Regions from separate parts of the Homo sapiens genome. Here region 2 is linked to region 1. Evidence: fine-mapped expression QTL. Tissue or cell type: whole blood. Region 1 holds a variant in brackets; the other region holds the start of a gene. All regions are shown on one strand. Distances are from middle to middle.

What was found. PIP is the estimated chance that this variant, and not a neighbour inherited with it, causes the effect.
Region 2: it holds the start of P2RX5, and the variant in region 1 is fine-mapped to the expression of P2RX5 in whole blood (INTERVAL, PIP above 0.99).

What each region holds. Positions count from the first base shown.
Region 1 is chr17:3,661,279-3,669,350 of GRCh38, forward strand. It overlaps CTNS (cystinosin, lysosomal cystine transporter), which reads left to right. Exons shown (of 12, transcript NM_004937.3): 12 at 1-1,825. It overlaps TAX1BP3 (Tax1 binding protein 3), which reads right to left and starts at 7,300. Exons shown (of 4, transcript NM_014604.4): 1 at 7,210-7,300; 2 at 3,401-3,520; 3 at 2,917-2,994; 4 at 1,617-2,607. The coding sequence starts at 7,248. The coding sequence ends at 2,470. EMC6 (ER membrane protein complex subunit 6) reads left to right here and starts at 7,534. Exons shown (of 2, transcript NM_031298.4): 1 at 7,534-7,621; 2 at 7,820-8,072. The coding sequence starts at 7,869. It overlaps P2RX5-TAX1BP3 (P2RX5-TAX1BP3 readthrough (NMD candidate)), which reads right to left. Exons shown (of 15, transcript NR_037928.1): 12 at 7,780-8,072; 13 at 3,401-3,520; 14 at 2,917-2,994; 15 at 1,615-2,607. It also overlaps the pseudogene RPL21P125. RefSeq lists enhancers at 6,094-6,625, 6,626-7,156, 7,689-8,072 and a silencer at 7,248-7,587. The variant C/CAA (reference allele first, on the strand shown) is at 4,436.
Region 2 is chr17:3,691,814-3,699,885 of GRCh38, forward strand. It overlaps P2RX5 (purinergic receptor P2X 5), which reads right to left and starts at 4,342. Exons shown (of 12, transcript NM_002561.4): 1 at 4,056-4,342. The coding sequence starts at 4,192. P2RX5-TAX1BP3 (P2RX5-TAX1BP3 readthrough (NMD candidate)) reads right to left here and starts at 4,591. Exons shown (of 15, transcript NR_037928.1): 1 at 4,056-4,591. RefSeq lists enhancers at 1,943-1,992, 2,393-2,442, 3,413-3,929, 4,042-4,091 and a silencer at 4,212-4,571.

The DNA.
Region 1 (8,072 bases):
GAGACTCACCAATTTCTGGCCTGTTCAGGAGCCTCAGATAAGTATTTGTACTTGAGACCACCTCACACAATCTGTATGGGCCCAACCCTGATCTCAAACCTCCTTCCCTCTGCCCAAAGCTGTCCTTCCTATGGCAGGAGGGGTGGGGGTCCCAGGACGTGCCTCATACATGACTTGAGCTTGTCAGTCCACTGAGTTTCCTTCTACGAGATCAACGCGAGGGGCCTGTATCTTGAATTAAAACCTACTCGCTTCCTTTCTGCACTCTGTGTGCTCGATACAGAAGGCAGGTGTGCTGGCCTTCAGAGCCAGGTGCCCTGCTCCCCTCGTGTAAGGAAGCGCATAAGGTTGTGAAGGTCACTGACCCGAGAGCGCTGCGTGCTGACCCCACACTTCACTGGGGAGCCCTCTTGGGTAGCGCGAGACGCCTACCCGCCCAGGGCCAGGTCAGTCTCCCAGGCTCCGTGTCTTCACGGTTACCAGGGCACGCCACTCAATCTGGATGTGAGCCGGGGTGGATGAGGTTCTGAAGGGCACACCAGCACTGGGAGCGGGGGCAGTGGGGGTCTTATTCTCCAGACGCTTCCTCTATCTAGTTGTAACAAACGTCAAAGAATGTCAGGTCTTGTTTCTGCAGAGCAGACTTTGGCCTGACGGGGTCCACAGACCTGTTTCACTTGCAACACCCAGTAAATGTGTTACTGGGTGCCCTACTTTAAAAATCAGAGATTTCAAATGATTGACTTTTCCGGCTGAGTGCGGTGGCTCACGCCTGTAATCCCAGCACTTTGGGAGGCCAAGGCAGATGGATCACCTGACATCAGGAGTTCGAGACCAGCCTAGCCAACATTGCAAAACCCCATCTCTACTAAAGATACAAAAATTAGCTGGGCATGGTGGCGGGCACCTGTAATCCCAGCTACTTGGTTGGCTGAGGCAGGAGAATTACTTGAACCCAGGAGGCGGAGGTTGCAGTGAGCGAAGATCACGCCATTGCACTCCAGCCTGGGCAACAAGAACGAAACTCCATCTCAAAAAAAAAAAAAAATTATTGACTTTTCTTTAAAATCTGATTTGGCAGTGCTAGGTAGGTCCAGGAGTGCTAACACCTTCCCAGAGGTGGTACGCAGGTAGTCAGGTGCTCTCTGACTCACCCCCATCTGGCCAGATCACGGCCCCCAGCAACACGTGGGGTTGTGTCCCTCGCTGGGATACACGGAGTGCCCTTATAGGCAGGGAGTCTTATAGGCAGGGGTCTCTCCCAGGCACCTCTGGGTGTCCCTACGGCCCCTCCCAGGTGGGAGCTGAGGCTAGGTTGCAAAAAGGAGGTTGGGAGCAAGTAGGGGCTTCACAGTAACACCCAAGAAAGCACACGCACCCCAGGGTCCCACCCCAGTGCTCCCAGACACTCCCACAGATGTGGTTCTGGTCAGGCGCAGTGCAGCTGCTGCGGCTCCACCAGCCCCGGGCTTTCAGGCAGGTGGGCCTGGGAGTAGTTGAGCTTTGTCCCAGAACAGTGGGGGATGGGGCCATCATTAAAACCACAGCTCTGGCCCCAATATCCCACCGCCACCCCCACCCCGATATCCCAGCCCATGCCTCAGCAAAGCCCCCTGTGAATTCCAGCATTTTTATTGAGCGCACCACATCGGGGAGGGGCGGCAGTGGTTTCCACGGTAACCAAAGTAAGGCTTGTGCACTTGCTGAGCTTCCAGATGCGAATTAGTAAAAGCTAAATTCAAAAGTAGAATGGGCATCTCCAAAGAGTACGATAAAAACATTTTGTATCAAACTTGTGATTAAAAAAATACAAAAGTTAAACCCACAGGCAAAGAGGAAAATGACAATCCTGAGAGCTGCCCTGATAGGTGAGCCTCGAACCTCGTCTAAATCCGTAAGAAGGCAAACCCTGGGGAGGCCAGCACCCCTCGGGAGAGTGGGAGTGAACGCGGAGCCCACCTGGCTTCATCTGGGCAAAGCTTCGTAGCGCCTCTGGCAGGATGTGTGTCCAGTCCCCCGAGGGGCAGAGGCACTGCGGTGTGGACACACGAGGGCTGGGGGGCAGGGGCGGAGCCGAACCCTGCAGCCAGGCAAAAGCGGGAAAGGCCTGGTTCCTCCAGCATTTCCCAGCTTTTGGGGGCTCCCAAGAGATAGTGGTTCCCACTTGCCCAGCCACTGCTGTGGCCAAGCAGCAGGGTCGGACCTGAGCCTGTGGTCACAGCAGACTGGCTACTACTCAGCTCCAGGCCCTTATTTCCAATCCTCGGTGTCCAGGAGAGAAAGCCGGTCCCAGAGGCCCCAGGCCAGGGATGGGAGAAGGGAAGGAAGGCCAGGCCAGGCCTCTGGGACCAGCTATAGCCCTTCTGAGCTGGGGCCCAGCGGTCAGCAGAAGCCAGATGGGGACAGAGTGTGGAAGTGGCGTTACTGTACAGAGAGGCGGCAGGCAGGAGTCGCAGATGGTGGTGGCTGCTAGGACAGCATGGACTGCTGCACGGCCTTCTGCAGCGACTGCCGCGTCACCAGCAGACGCACCACCTCCTCCGAGCGCTTGGTGAGCCGCTTGCGGGCCTGGTCGTGTGTGACCATGGTCATGTCCCAGCCGTTCACCTGGCCCCAGGAGAGAACACAGGCTCACCTCAGCTCCCCGCCCTCTGGGATCTGGAAGCAGAGGGCTTTGGGGGCCCAGGTCATTCAAGTAGGCCCCCAGCCTAACATCCCAGGGCTGGGAGACACCAAGCACTGTGGCTGAGACACACAGGAGAGAAAGCCAGCGTCCTCTGGGGCAATGCCAGTATGGGTTCCCAATTGGCTGCAGTGAGTCTCTCCCAGCTGGGAGGCTGGGGCAGCTCCCCACCCCCAAGTGCTTCAGACCTGCTTGCCCAAACCTTGTTTCTCCTCCTTTGGGACACCTGTTACCTGCATGATCTTGTCTCCAATCTGCAGCCCAGCGATTTCAGCAGGGCCTCCTTCAGACACCCGTGTGACATAAATACCCTGGAAAGGGGCAGCCCAAGTCAAGCCCTGTGGTCACTGGACTGGCCCCTTATCACACAGCGGAAGCCAGCATGGCACATTCTCAGCCGTCCCTCTGTCCCTGCACCCAGCCTCTCCCAGCACATATGGTCAGTGAGGACTGTTCTGAGAGAGCCGGGGCAGAGTTGCTGCACCACCATGCACCGGCCCTGCTGATGGCCGCCTCCTGCTCCTCCTGGGCTCTGTCTGAGCAGCCCTTCCTCACCCCACCCGTCCTTATTCTCACTAGGTCACTTCCGATGCCTTCTTAGAGAGCATGGTTTGAGAGATGAAGTCTGTTCCTTCCATGCAGGCCCAGGAAGCAGAGACCCACCATCTCAGGCCCCTGTGCCCCATGGAGCGGTCCCAGGACCCCAGACCCCCTCACCTTGTCCGTCTTGTCTTCAGAGAAGGGATTCTGGGAAGGATCCTGGTCGATTCCACCTCCAATGCTGAAACCCAGGATTAAGTTCTCACCTTGACGCAGCTTGTGAATTTCAACTCTTTGCTGGCAAAGAAAAAAGCCAGTTGAGAGAAGTGGGTGGTTGGAGAATTAGGCTGGTGGGTGTTCCCAGCAGCAGCCTCAGAGCCATGACAAGGGGCTGGGTCCCAGGCCCCTGCAGGAATCCAGCTGCTCACCAGCCTGGGAGGCTGAGGAGCTGGCACTCAGAACTTGGCCACATTGATCCACCCACACAGCCCTGTGTCCTCAACCTGTCCCCACTTCCCCTGTTAGTCTTAGGCACTAGTCTTGGTCAACATGTGGTGGAAGCCCCTGCTGGCCCAAGAGTCCAGGTGCTGTGGCTTCTGTAGGTGGGAAGCCCGTCTCACAGGAGGTGCTCTGGAAAAGCAGAGATCAAACTTGCATAGAAAGGAGAGGAAGGGGTTTCCTTTCGGCCGGAACCGCCATCTTCCAGTAATTCGCCAAAATGACGAACACAAAGGGAAAGAGGAGAGGCACCGGATATATGTTCTCTAGGCCTTTTAGAAAACATGGAGATGTTCCTTTGGCCACATATATGCGAATCTATAAGAAAGGTGATACTGTAGACATCAAGGGAATGGGTACTGTTCAAAAAGGAATGCCCCACAAGGGTTACCATGGCAAAACTGGAAGAGTCTACAATGTTCCCCAGCATGCTGTTGGCATTGTTGTAAACAAACAAGTTAAGGGCAAGATTCTTGCCAAGAGAATTAATGTGCGTATTGAGCACATAAAGCACTCTAAGAGCCGAGATAGCTTCCTGGAACGCGTGAAGGAAAATGATCAGAAAAAGAAAGAAGCCAAAGAGAAAGGTACCTGGGTTCAACTAAAGCACCAGCCTGCTCCACCCAGGGAAGCACACTTTGTGAGAACCAACGGGAAGGCGCCTGAGCTGCTGGAACCTATTCCCTATGAATTCATGGCATAATAGGTGTTAAA[C/CAA]AAAAAAAAATAAAGGATCTCTGGGCTCCAAAAAAAAAAAAAAAAAAAAAAAGAAAGGAGAGGAAGGGCTTGCCGGCCACGGGGACCAGCGCACAGGGTGCCGTGGATACGTGTTCGTGAGACTGGAGTGTCCAGTGCAGGACACAGAACTGGGAGGCGAGATGAGGCTGAAAGTGTAAGGCTGGGGCCAGATCCCGTCCTGGAAGGGGAGCAGGGGTGTCTCCCTAAGCCCCAGACCCTGCTCTTGTGCAGAAACGAGTGTTCTGGGGCATTCCCACCATGCTCTGGGGTGTTCCCACCATGCTCTGGGGCTATGGTCCCCAACTGTGCCAGGTTCTTTTCAAAGCCCTTGGCAAGCGCCGTCCAGTCAGCAGATGCTGGGAGCCAGACCAGATCACTCCCAAAGTCAAGTTTTAACAGGAAGGAGAAAAGAAAAAAGCAGAAGACCACAATCTAGACTAGACCTAAAGAAGTTTCCCAAAGGGAGGATTATTTGCACCAGGCTTTGAGGGGGTGATGGGTAGCCTGACCTTGATCCTGAACCCACTGGAGTTCTCAGGAACGGAGTAGGGTAGGGCATGGTCAGGTTTGCTGCTAGAATGACCACTCAGGTAATCAGTAGAGGAACGGACATCTCACAAAAGCAAGGTGCAGAGGCCGGGGGACATGGAGCTACCTGAAAATGGAGATCTACAGACTTAGGGACCACTCATGGAGGAGAGGAGTCAAGAGGAGCACCCAGCCACCGTGCCTGGCTGAACACACATTATTCAGATGGGGACCCAGGAGGAGGAGGAGCAGGTTAGGTTGGAGTGCCAGGAGCTGCGGGGCAGGTGTCCAGAAGGCAGATGGATCTATGGAGCCAGGGTTCAGAAGAATGGCCTAAATGTCTTTAATATTCTCAGGATTCTACATGGGAGAGGGTGGGGACTGGGGAGTGAGCCTGCCCAAACCCATCCCCAATCCAAGACTCGAGGGAGAGGCCAGACCATACACACCATGTCCAGGCACGTTCCTGGTGTTACCAGAATTAGGGGGCATGGGCCTGCAGTTTTGGGGAAGGCCCTGGGACCAGTTATGGCGTGAGGGAGGGGGGCAGGAAGCATGAGGCCTACTGTGCCTGGGTCCTCATGCCCCAAACTGAGCTCCTCCAGGCCTGCTCTGCCGGCACGGTCAGAAGATTACAGGCCCTTGGGTTGGGAGACAGGGCTGTCACTGATTTGCTGGGTGAGGTCACGCAGAAGGTGGCTTGCTGTAGCTCCTCACCTGTCCCTGCCCCCCTTCTACCTAAAGAGCAAACCTGGTGCCTTCTCTCTGGGGCAGGTAGGGATCTAAAAAAGCCAGGCTGGGCCGGGTGTGGTGCCTCACGCCTGTAATCCCAGCACTTTGGGAGGCTGAGGCAGGTGGATCACCAGAGGTCAGGAGTTCAAGACAAGCCTGGCCAACATGGTGAAACCCCGTTCTACTAAAAATACAAAAATTAGCTGGGCATGCTGGTGCATGCCTGTAATCCCAGCTACTCGGGAGGCTGAGGCAGGAGAATCGCTTGAACCCAGGAGGCGGAGGTTGCAATGAACCGAGATCGCGCCACTGTACTCCAGCCTGGGCGACAGAGCAAGACTGTCTCAAAAAAAAAAAAAAAAAAAAAGTCAAGCTGGTGCAGGGAGGGTGAAGCTTAGGACAGCTGTCAGCTGGTCCAGCAATGTTTCCTCCTGGCCCAGGCCTGAGCCAGTGCTCTAAGCTCAGCCTCACTTGTCGCCTTTATCAGTGGCTTCTCTGCCTCCACCCACCTGATTGCTGGAGCTTCTCCAGCACACCCAACTGAGATAACACACCCAGTCCCTATGGCTCCAGGGCGGGGACTTTCGCTTGACCTACTGCCCACCGGGCAGGCATTTCTTCTCATTCTCTGAACGCTGTCGGGAGGTAGGCAGGAGACCTGAGTCTTTCCTGAGGTGGTCTTTTCTGGCTGAGCACTTCTCTCTGGGACTCCCCACCTCTGTCATAGGGTTGTGTCCCTCTGTGACACCGGCGTCTGAGTCTAACGTCCCAGCCTTCCTTCCTCCCTCTGCCTAGTCTAATAGCACCCAGCACCTAAAACAAGCCAGAGGGCGGCCAGGGGCCTAGGCTAGCCCCCGGAGGGTCTACTCAGGACTCAAGTGCCAGGAGGGAGGCCTGGACTTTTTTGCCTTAAGGGCTGGAGACCCAGGAAAAGTTCGAAGAGGAAACGCTCATCGCAGCTATACGAGCGTCCACCCTGGACCAGGCGGCGAGTGGGTTGGAGGAGCAAGGCTGGACAGGAAGGGGGCAGGGGCTGCCACGGCAGGCTCGGGAGAGCCCCACCCCCAGATCTCCCTCCGGGCGGCGGCGCAGGCTGCAGCGGAGGAAGCATTTCCTCATTCCAGAGGCTGCGACTCATGGACGTCGGGATCGGCGCCCGCCCCCAGCAGCTCCCCGTCTGGGGACACGGAGGCCCGGGAAGGGGGCGCTTTTCCAGGCTCCTGCAGCCAGGCCTTTCCCCGTGGCCCTCCCCGCCCTGCGCACGCAGTCTGGGCTCTGTCCAGGGTCTCGGGAGGCTCTCGGGTCCCGGCCATCCCTGTTTCGTGGCTGGGGGAACTGCGGCCCGCTCCGGCAAAGCGGGGACCCGAGCCCTTGCCGCCGGTTCGCAGGAGCCCCGGGTTCGATGCTCTGTCAACCTGCTTGGGGTGTCCGTTTCCCGCTCTGCGAGGTGGGGTCAGGCCAAGACGAGGAGGAGCCCGCGCAAGCGCACTCACCACCACGGCGGTGACCGGCTGGCCCGGGATGTAGGACATCTCGACCCTGCTCTGGTCGCCCAGCGCCGCTCCGAGAAGCCGGCAGCAGAGTACCCGCGGTCGCGCCCTCGCTGCTTAACAAAGGCCGCCCCGCTCGGCCCGCCCCCTCATGAATAGTTAACAAACCTCCAGCCAATCACTGGCCGGAGCGCCACTCCGCTTTCGGAAGTCCCTGCGCGTGCGCAGAAAAGCGGGCAGAGGGCGGAGCGTGTCCGGGGCGCCCACGGCGCAGGCGCGGAGGGCGGGGCGGGATCTGGGCGCGTGCGCAGCCCGAGACCTCCCGGCAGTCTTCCGAGCAAGATGGCGCCGCGGGCATTTCTTCCACTGCCCGTCTGAGGGAACGCTAAGTAGTGTGTCCGGCGCCGTGTTCCAGGTAACTGGGCCACCGTGGCCGGGGAACGCAGACGCGCCACCACCTCCCGGCCGGCCCGGACCCTCAATCTCCTCGGCGTCTTTGGAAGATCCGAGGCCCAGGACTGGTGCCAGGTCTCGGAAGCTCCAGGGGGAGGGGGCGGCGTGAACCCAACTCACCGAGCTCCGGGCGCCACTTGTAACTTGGTTTTCTCCGCAGCTCCGCGTTGTTCCGCGAGAAAGCGAGAGGCCGAGCCCGGGCTGGTGCGATGGCCGCGGTGGTGGCCAAGCGGGAAGGGCCGCCGTTCATCAGCGAGGCGGCCGTGCGGGGCAACGCCGCCGTCCTGGATTATTGCCGGACCTCGGTGTCAGCGCTGTCGGGGGCCACGGCCGGCATCCTCGGCCTCACCGGCCTCTACGGCTTCATCTTCTACCTGCTCGCCTCCGTCCTGCTCTCCCTGCTCCTCATTCTC
Region 2 (8,072 bases), 31 kb after region 1:
ACGTGGGCATCAGCCACTCTGCTGGCTTCGGGGAGCTTCCCCAGGCCTTGGGGTGGGGTAGCAGTCACAGCAACTCCTAGTTGAGGTGGAGCAGGCTCAGGGCTCCACCTGTCCCACCAGCTCCTGGGCAGGGGCCACAGCTCCCACTGCTGACTGAAACCCAGTCCTGCAAGCAGCAGAGGCGACAAGCAACCCTAGAGATGGGGGCCCTGAAGAGGCAAAGACCAGCCGGGCGCAGTGGCTCACGCCTATAATCCGAGGCAGGCAGATCGCAAGGTCAGGAGATTGAGACCATCCTGGCTAACACAGTGAAACCCTGTCTCTACTCAAAAAAAAAAAAAAAAATACAAAAAATTAGCCAGGCGTGGTGGTGGGCGCCTGTAGTCCCAGCTACTCAGGAGGCTGAGGCAGGAGAATGGCGTGAACCCGGGAGGCAGAGCTTGCAGTAAGCAGAGATCGCACCACTGCACTCCAGCCTGGGCGACAGAGTGAGATTCTGTCTCAAAAAATAAATAAATAAATAAATAAAAGAGGCAAAGACCACTGTCCACTCAGAGGCCCCAAGTGGACAAGCCTGGGCTGAAGCCACATACTGGTTTGGTGACCCCAGGCAAGCCAATTTCCCATACATAACATGGGGTGACAGCGCCTCCCTCTGGGGTTGTGATGGTGCCTAACCTGAAACCAATCACGAGGAGACCTCAAACAAACCCAAACTGAGGGGCATTCTACAAAATAAGAGTACAGGCCAGGCACGGTGGCTCGCGCCTGTACTCCTAGCACTTTGGGAGACCAAGGCAGGAGGATCGCTTGAGCCCAGGAGTTTGAGACCAGCCGGGGCAACACAGTGAGACCCCATCTCTATGAAAAACAAAAAAGTAATCTAGGCATGGTGGCACCAGCCTGTCGTCCCAGCTACTCGGGAGGCTGAGGTGGGAGGATCCCTCGAGCCTGGGAGGTCGAGGCTGCAGTGAGCCATGATTGTGCCCAGGTGACAGGGTGAGACCCAGCCTCAAAAACAACAACAAAAAAATGAAATAAGAGTACAAATCCCATACTTGTTGACACTAAAAACGCAAGCAATAAAAGAAAAAATAGGTAAGTTGGACTTCATAAAAATTTAAAATGTTCATGCATCAAAAGACACTCTCAAGAAAGTGAAAAGACAACCCACAGAATGGGAGAAAACATTTGAAATAATGTAGCTGGTAAGGGTTTAGTATCCAGAAGATACAAAAAACTCTTATAATTTAACAATAAAAAGCCAAATAATCCAATTTAAAAATGAGCAAAGGATTTGAATAGACATTTCTCAAAAAAAAAAAAAAAAAAGAGAGAGAGAGATACACAAATGCCCAATTAAGCATATGAAAAGATGACAAACACCATTGGTCATTAGGGAAATACAAATCAAAACCACAATAAAACACCACTTCACTTCCACTAGGATGGCTATCATTTTTTAAAAACCCTACAGATAACAGGTGTTGATGAGGTTGTGAAGAAATTAGAACCCCCGTATATCACTGATAGGGATGTAAAATGAGGTAGTTATGGTAGAAAACAGTTTAGCAGTTCCTCAAAAGGTTAAGGATCGAGTTACCAGATAAGCCAGAAAATTCCCAAGAGATTGAGAACATGGCCAGGCACAGTGGCTCCCGCCTGTCATCCCAGCACTTTGGGAGGCCAAGGCAGGTGGATCACCTGAGGTCAGGAGTTCGAGGCCAGCCTGACCAACATGGTGAAACTCCGTGTCTACTAAAAAAATACAAAAATTAGCCAGGCATGGTGGCCCATGCCTGTAATCCCAGTTAATCCAGAGGCTGAGGCAGGAGAATCTCTTGAACCCAGGAGGCAGAGGTTGTAGTGAGCTGAGATCATGCCATTGCACTCCAGCCTGGGCAACAAGAGCGAAACTCCATCTCAAAAATAATAATAATAATAATTAAAAATTGAAAAATTGAAAACATGTTCACAAAAAACTTGTACATGAATGTTCTCAGAAGCATTCTTCTTCTTTTTTTTTTTTTGAGACAGTCTTGCTCTGCTGCCCAGGCTGCTGGAGTGCACTGGTGCGAGTAGCTGAGATTACATGCGCTCGCCACCACACCCAGCCAATTTTTGAATTTTTAGTAGAGACGGGGTTTTACCACGTTGGTCAGGCTAGCCTTGAACTCCTGACCTCAAGTGATCCAGCCACCGCGGTCTCCTCTCCCAAAGTGCTGGGGTTACAGGCATGAGCCACTACACTCAGCGGTGTGAAAACCACCCAAATGTCCATCAGCTGATGAATGCATGACCACAATGTGGCAGCCCCACACGGCAGGATAGTATCAGCCACAGAGAGGAATGGAGGGCTGATAGATGCCACAACATGGGTGAACCTTGAAAACATGACACCAAGTGAAAGAAGCCAGAAAAAAAAAAAAAAAGGCCGCATACTATACAATTTCATTTATACGAAATACCCAGAATAGGCAAATCCATAGAGACAGATTCTCCTGCCTCAGCCTCCCGATTAGCTGGGATTACAGGCGCCACTATCATGCCCAGCTAATTGTTGTGTATTTTTAGTAGAAACAGGGTTTCTCCATGTTGGCCAGGCTGGTCTCGAACTCCTGACCTCAGGTGATCCACCCACCTCGGCTTCCCAAAGGGCTGGGATTATAGGCATGAGCCACAGCGCCCGGCCGCCAATTTCCTAATTTTCATACTTGTACTTAGTTAAATATGTCCTGCTTTCCCTGCCATGTGAGGACACAGCGAGAGGGTGGCCATCTGCAAGCCAAGGAGAGAGCCCCCCCTGAGACCCCGAACCATGCTACCACCCTCGTCTCAGATTTCCACATCCAGGACTGCGAGAATTAAATTTCTATTGTTCAAGCAAAAGCAACTCCATTTATTCATTCATGCGTTCATTTCACATCTATTCCCTAAGCAGTTAAGTGCTGCTGGGGCCCCACCCTCAGGGCATTCCCGGACTGACAGCGACATCAGGCAAATGATCCCCCAAATAAGCCCAATAATTACACTGTGGGAAGGCCAGGGAGGAAGGGAGAGGGAGTTACTGGAAAGCCCAGATCTGGGGGCTGAGTGGATGCTAAGGGAGTGGAGGAGGACGGGCAGGCCTGGCTGAGCAACAGCACAGCGCCTACGAGGCCGCTCAGGTGGGAGGCGGCCAGGGGCCTGGGGATGCAGCTCAGAGAACGCGGACTGCTGGACCTCCGAGGGAGAGCCAGGCGTCAGGGCTGCCCTCCCAGGAGGAAGCAGGAGGAACTCCACCGCATTTACTGAACGAGTGGAATGAGGCGCATCCCCATTGTCCAGCGCTGCTTCTCCCCTCCACCTGCTCACCCCCGACCCACCCCGGGGTCAGGGCTCTGAAGGCGCCTGGCAGAGCAGCCTCCACAAGTTGCCTCTTTGGCTTTGTGGCGCCAGCTCCTGCCAGGTGGCATGAGGATGGGGGAAGGGGATGGCCGAGCTGGGTGCAGAGATAGAGGCCTCTGGGCAGGACCCCCAGCTGGACACCAGAGAGGCTGGCCGCGGGTGGGGCAAGTTGACCGGAAGGGAGCTCAGGAACATGCCGGGCTGATGAGTTTCTCCAGCTCTGAGTAGGCAGTGACACCCTGTGATTATAAATAACCTGCCGGCGCCTGGGTCAGCTGCCAGGCCAAGGCCCAGGGAGGCTCCTGGGGCGACAGCTGCCACCCAGCCCCCTGGCATCCCTGCCCCCTTCCCATGGCCCTAACACGTGGGGACCCGACTCTGGGAGAAGCAGCTGCAGGGAAAGCCTGATAAATCGAGGAAACCAGAAGGCCCCTGCCCACCTCTCATCACCTCTAGCGCCAGTGGGGGAGTGGAGAGCCCCCTCTCTACACCCTACTCCTACACCCAAGGACCCAAAGAGGACCCCCACAGCAAGCAGGCTCACAGACCCCCAGCTACCGGGAAAACCGCGTGCACGCCTGCGAATTCCAGGACCCTGGAGAAGGACGCGGCGGCTGGCACCCGCCCTGCCCCTCCCCCGCCTTCCCAAAAGTCCGCGGAGAACTTACACGACCAGGTACGCCAGGATGGAGGCCTGCAGCAGCCGGTACAGCAGGCCCACCTTCTTGTTCTTGGCGATGACATACTTCTCGGTCTTGTAGTCGAACAGCGACAGGCAGAGCCCCTTGCAGCCCGCCTGCCCCATGGCGCGCTCTCAGCCGGGCTTGCGGACCGCCCGGCCCACGTGCGCTCATGGGGAGCACTCGGTCCCTCGGTCCCTGCGCGCCCGGCGCCCGCCTCGGCCCGTCTGCGCCCGCTCAGCTGCAGCCCGGGGTGTCCGGCAGGGCTGCGGGGCGCGGGGGCGGGTCGGGGCGGCCTTTTATTGACGCGGTTGAGAAAGCCTCGGCTGGGAGCTGGGCGGCGGCGAGCACCGGAACCTCAGACCGCGACCTTGCCGCTACCTCTTCTTCCTCCTCCTCCTCCTCCTCCCCTGACACAGTGACACCCCTGCAACCTACTCCCCAGCCACCGGTCTGGGAGCGCAGCCCCCCGGATGCGCAGGACCGCCCTGTGCTGTTGCCCAGCTGAAAGCAGCGATCGCGGAGGAGAGGAAGTGAAAGGGGGAAGGGCTCCTTTTTATTTTATTTTAAATTTATTTATTCATTTATTTTTGAGACGGAGCCTCGCTCTGTCGCCGAGGCTGGAGTGCAGTGGTGCGATCTCAGCTCACTGCTACCTCCGCCTCCCGGGTTCAAGCGATTCTCCTGCCTCAGCCTCCCAAGTAGCTGGGACTACAGGCGTGATAATTTTTGTATTTTTAGTAGAGACGGGGTTTCACCATGTTGGCCAGGCTGGTCTTGAACTCCTGACCTCAGGTGATCCGCCCACCTCGGCCTCCCAAAGTGCTGGGATTACAGGCGTGAGCCACCGCGCACGGCCGGGAAGAGCTCCGTTTAAAGCAAAACTCCCCTTTCTCTCGCAAAGAAATCCCAAAGGGTTCTTCCTATTGAATAGATGGGGAACTGAGGCCAGGGGAGGAAGGAAGGGGACACAACAGGTTTCTCCATTCACCTCGCGCCAGGTCTCCTGCCAGGGAGATACATTCTTGCTCCGTGGGCAGGGGGTGGTTGTGGGGGGGAAGCCGTGGCTCCCCCACAGGCTGGAAGAGACAAGACTTGTCCCACCTGAGGCTGCCTGTGTCTGCTGCGACTAATGCGCGTTTCTACTGCAGCAGCTGCTGCAGGTTTAAAAGCCCACACTCCGGCGGAGTCGGTGGTCAGGCAGGTCCCGAGTGCCGGCAGCATGAAGACCTCCCTCCCACACTCAGGGCGGATGGTGCGGGGGTGGGGGGCAGACGGGGTGGGGGCGGGGAGACACAGGCAACCCACCCTAGGATCCTAAAAATATGCCTGGAGAGTGCGCATGTACCAACTGTTTGGAATGGTTCCCAACGCACAAGAAATAGAACTGATCCATGCAGCTATGACTGCAACCCTCTCAGTATGTGGAATTCAACAGGAGTGGGAGTGGGATGAGGGAGGGCCTCCGGGGGGGCAGGTTTAGAACTCCTGACAGCCAAAGACGCAGGGCCCTGGGTGAGCGCGGTGTGGTGAGGAGCTGCGCACGCTTATTTTCTGCATCCTGCAGTCTGACCACAAGCAGTCCTGCTCCTCTCCCTACCCCTGGCTTTCACACACAAAGAGGCTCCCTTCCCTAAGCCACAGACTCGGGGAACTGGAAGGTACCCTGAAATTCATCAGTGTGATTCTAAAGTAAAAGCCCCAAGGAAGGTGTCCAGTTTCAAAGTGCATGGGAATCATGTGGAAGAAAAAAAGGCAAATTCCTAGGCCCTGCCCCTCAAATTTTCATTCACGAAATCTAAGATGGGGCTGGGAACCTGTATTTTGCTCTCAAACTGTCATTTGGGAAAGCGTGGATCTTTGCATCTTTTCATCCATTTCAACTCAACTGCCATTTCTTCAAAAAGGCCTGTTATTATTGCCCACCCAAAGTAGCCCCCAGTCCCAGCCCAGCCACTTTCTATCCCATTATCTCATCTTATTCCCTTAGAGCACCTGTCACTATCCAGTAGGATCTCGTTGACTTAGTGACTGTGTCCCATGCTAAGACCAGAAGCTCCCGGAGAGCAGGGACCATGCCTTTGGACATCTCTGTATGTCCCTGTGCCTGCCACATAATAGTTCTAGACATATTATTGAATGAGTGGACAAACCTGGCCCTGATTTTTTTTTTTTTCAACAGGGAGGGCATTTCGATTCCACCCTGCCCCAGTCATGACTGCGAATTTTAGGGGCTGAAGTCATCTTGGCTCTCCTGCCAGCCTCCTCCTCAGCCCCCTGCTAACACAGCACTCCAATGCTCACTAAAGCAGCCGCCACCGAGTGACATCACCCCTAAGAAGATGCCCGTCACCCTGACAGTGCTGCTCCAGGGTAAGGTATAGAGGGGAGGTGGACTTTCAGAGTCTCACAGGAGTCGCCTGAATTGCATCTGCCCTGGAGAAGAGCTTGCCCATCAACCCCAGCACAGGACAACATGAGTGTCACAGAGATGGTGCCACATTGAGTCTCTCCACTCCCCAAGGGAGTTCCAGGTTTTGTTCCAGGGCCTGTTTGTTCTTTGAAGGGGTCTTTAGAGACCAGGACCTTCATTTTTCTGGGGTGATTAGGGAAGGGGTGAGTAAGTGAGGCCCCAGAGCAGAGCCTACCACTAGCCCCAGTCCCAGGCACTCTGCTGTTCTTGATTCATCAAACCTTTGTGTGCTACTGGAGAGGCTGAACTGCCAGGCACTTGCCCTCCATGTCCTGTCTTAACTGCCACTGTGGCTTTAGAGAAGGGCTCTGCTCTGACTTCCCCTCCAGTACAGGCAGCCCCTCCTGAACTCCCCACGGCACAGCCAAGACCAGGCTGCAACTTCTGACGGAACTGTCCTGAAGCTTTAGAGACCACATGAGGGGCATCTAGAGGGGACAGGGCTCTCGGGGACAGGACCAGGCCCATCCTTACGGGGTCCCTTACTGCACAGCTTCAGAGACTAGATCCAGACCCACTGGTGAGGCATGACATCAAATTACTGGGCGACAACCAGCATTAAAAAAAATAGGTTGGGCACAGGCGCTCATGCCTGTAATCCCAGCACTTTGGGAGGCTGAAGCAGCAGAACCGCTTGAGCCCAGGAGTTCAAGACCAGCCTGGGCAACATAGCAAAACTTTGTCTATATATATAGACAGACACACACACACACACACACACACACACACACACACACACACCTATATATATAACTAGCCAAGTCAGGCACAGTGGCTCATGCCTTTAATCCTAGCACCTTGGGAGGCCAAGGCAGGAGGATTGCTTGAGCCCAGGAGTTCAAGACCAGCCTGGGCAACATAGGGAGACCCCTTCTATACAAAAAATAAAAAATTAGCTGGATGTGGTCGTGCACACTTGTGGTCCCAGCTGCTTGGGAGGCTGAGGCAGGAGGATCACCTGAGCCCAGGTGGGTTGAGGCTGCAGTGAGCCATTATTGCACCACTGCACTCCAGCCTGTATGATAGAGACCCTGCTTCTTAAAAAAAATTGACCAGGTGGGATGGTGCACACCTGTAGTCCTAGCTGCTCAGGAGGCTGAGGTAGGAGGATCTCTTGAGCCTGGGAGTTCAACACTGTAGTGAGCAATTATCGCAAATAAATAGAAAATATTGCCGGATGCAGTGGCTCACACCTGTCATCCCAGCAGTTTGGGAGGCCGAGGCAGGTAGATCACGAGGTCAAAAGTTTGAGACCAGCCTAACCAACATGGTGAAACCCCCTCTCTATGAAAAATACAAAAATTAGCCAGGCCTGGTGGCACACGCCTATAGTCCCAGCTACTCAGGAGGCTGAGACAGGAGAATCGCTTGAACCCAGGAGGTGGAGCTTGCAGTGAGCCAAGATCGCGCCACTGCACTCCAGCCTGGGTGACAGAGTGATACTCCATCTAAGAAAGAAAGAAAGAGAGAAAGAGAGAGAGAGAGAGAAAGAAAAAGAAAAAAGAAAGAAAGAAAGAAAGAAAGGAAGGAAG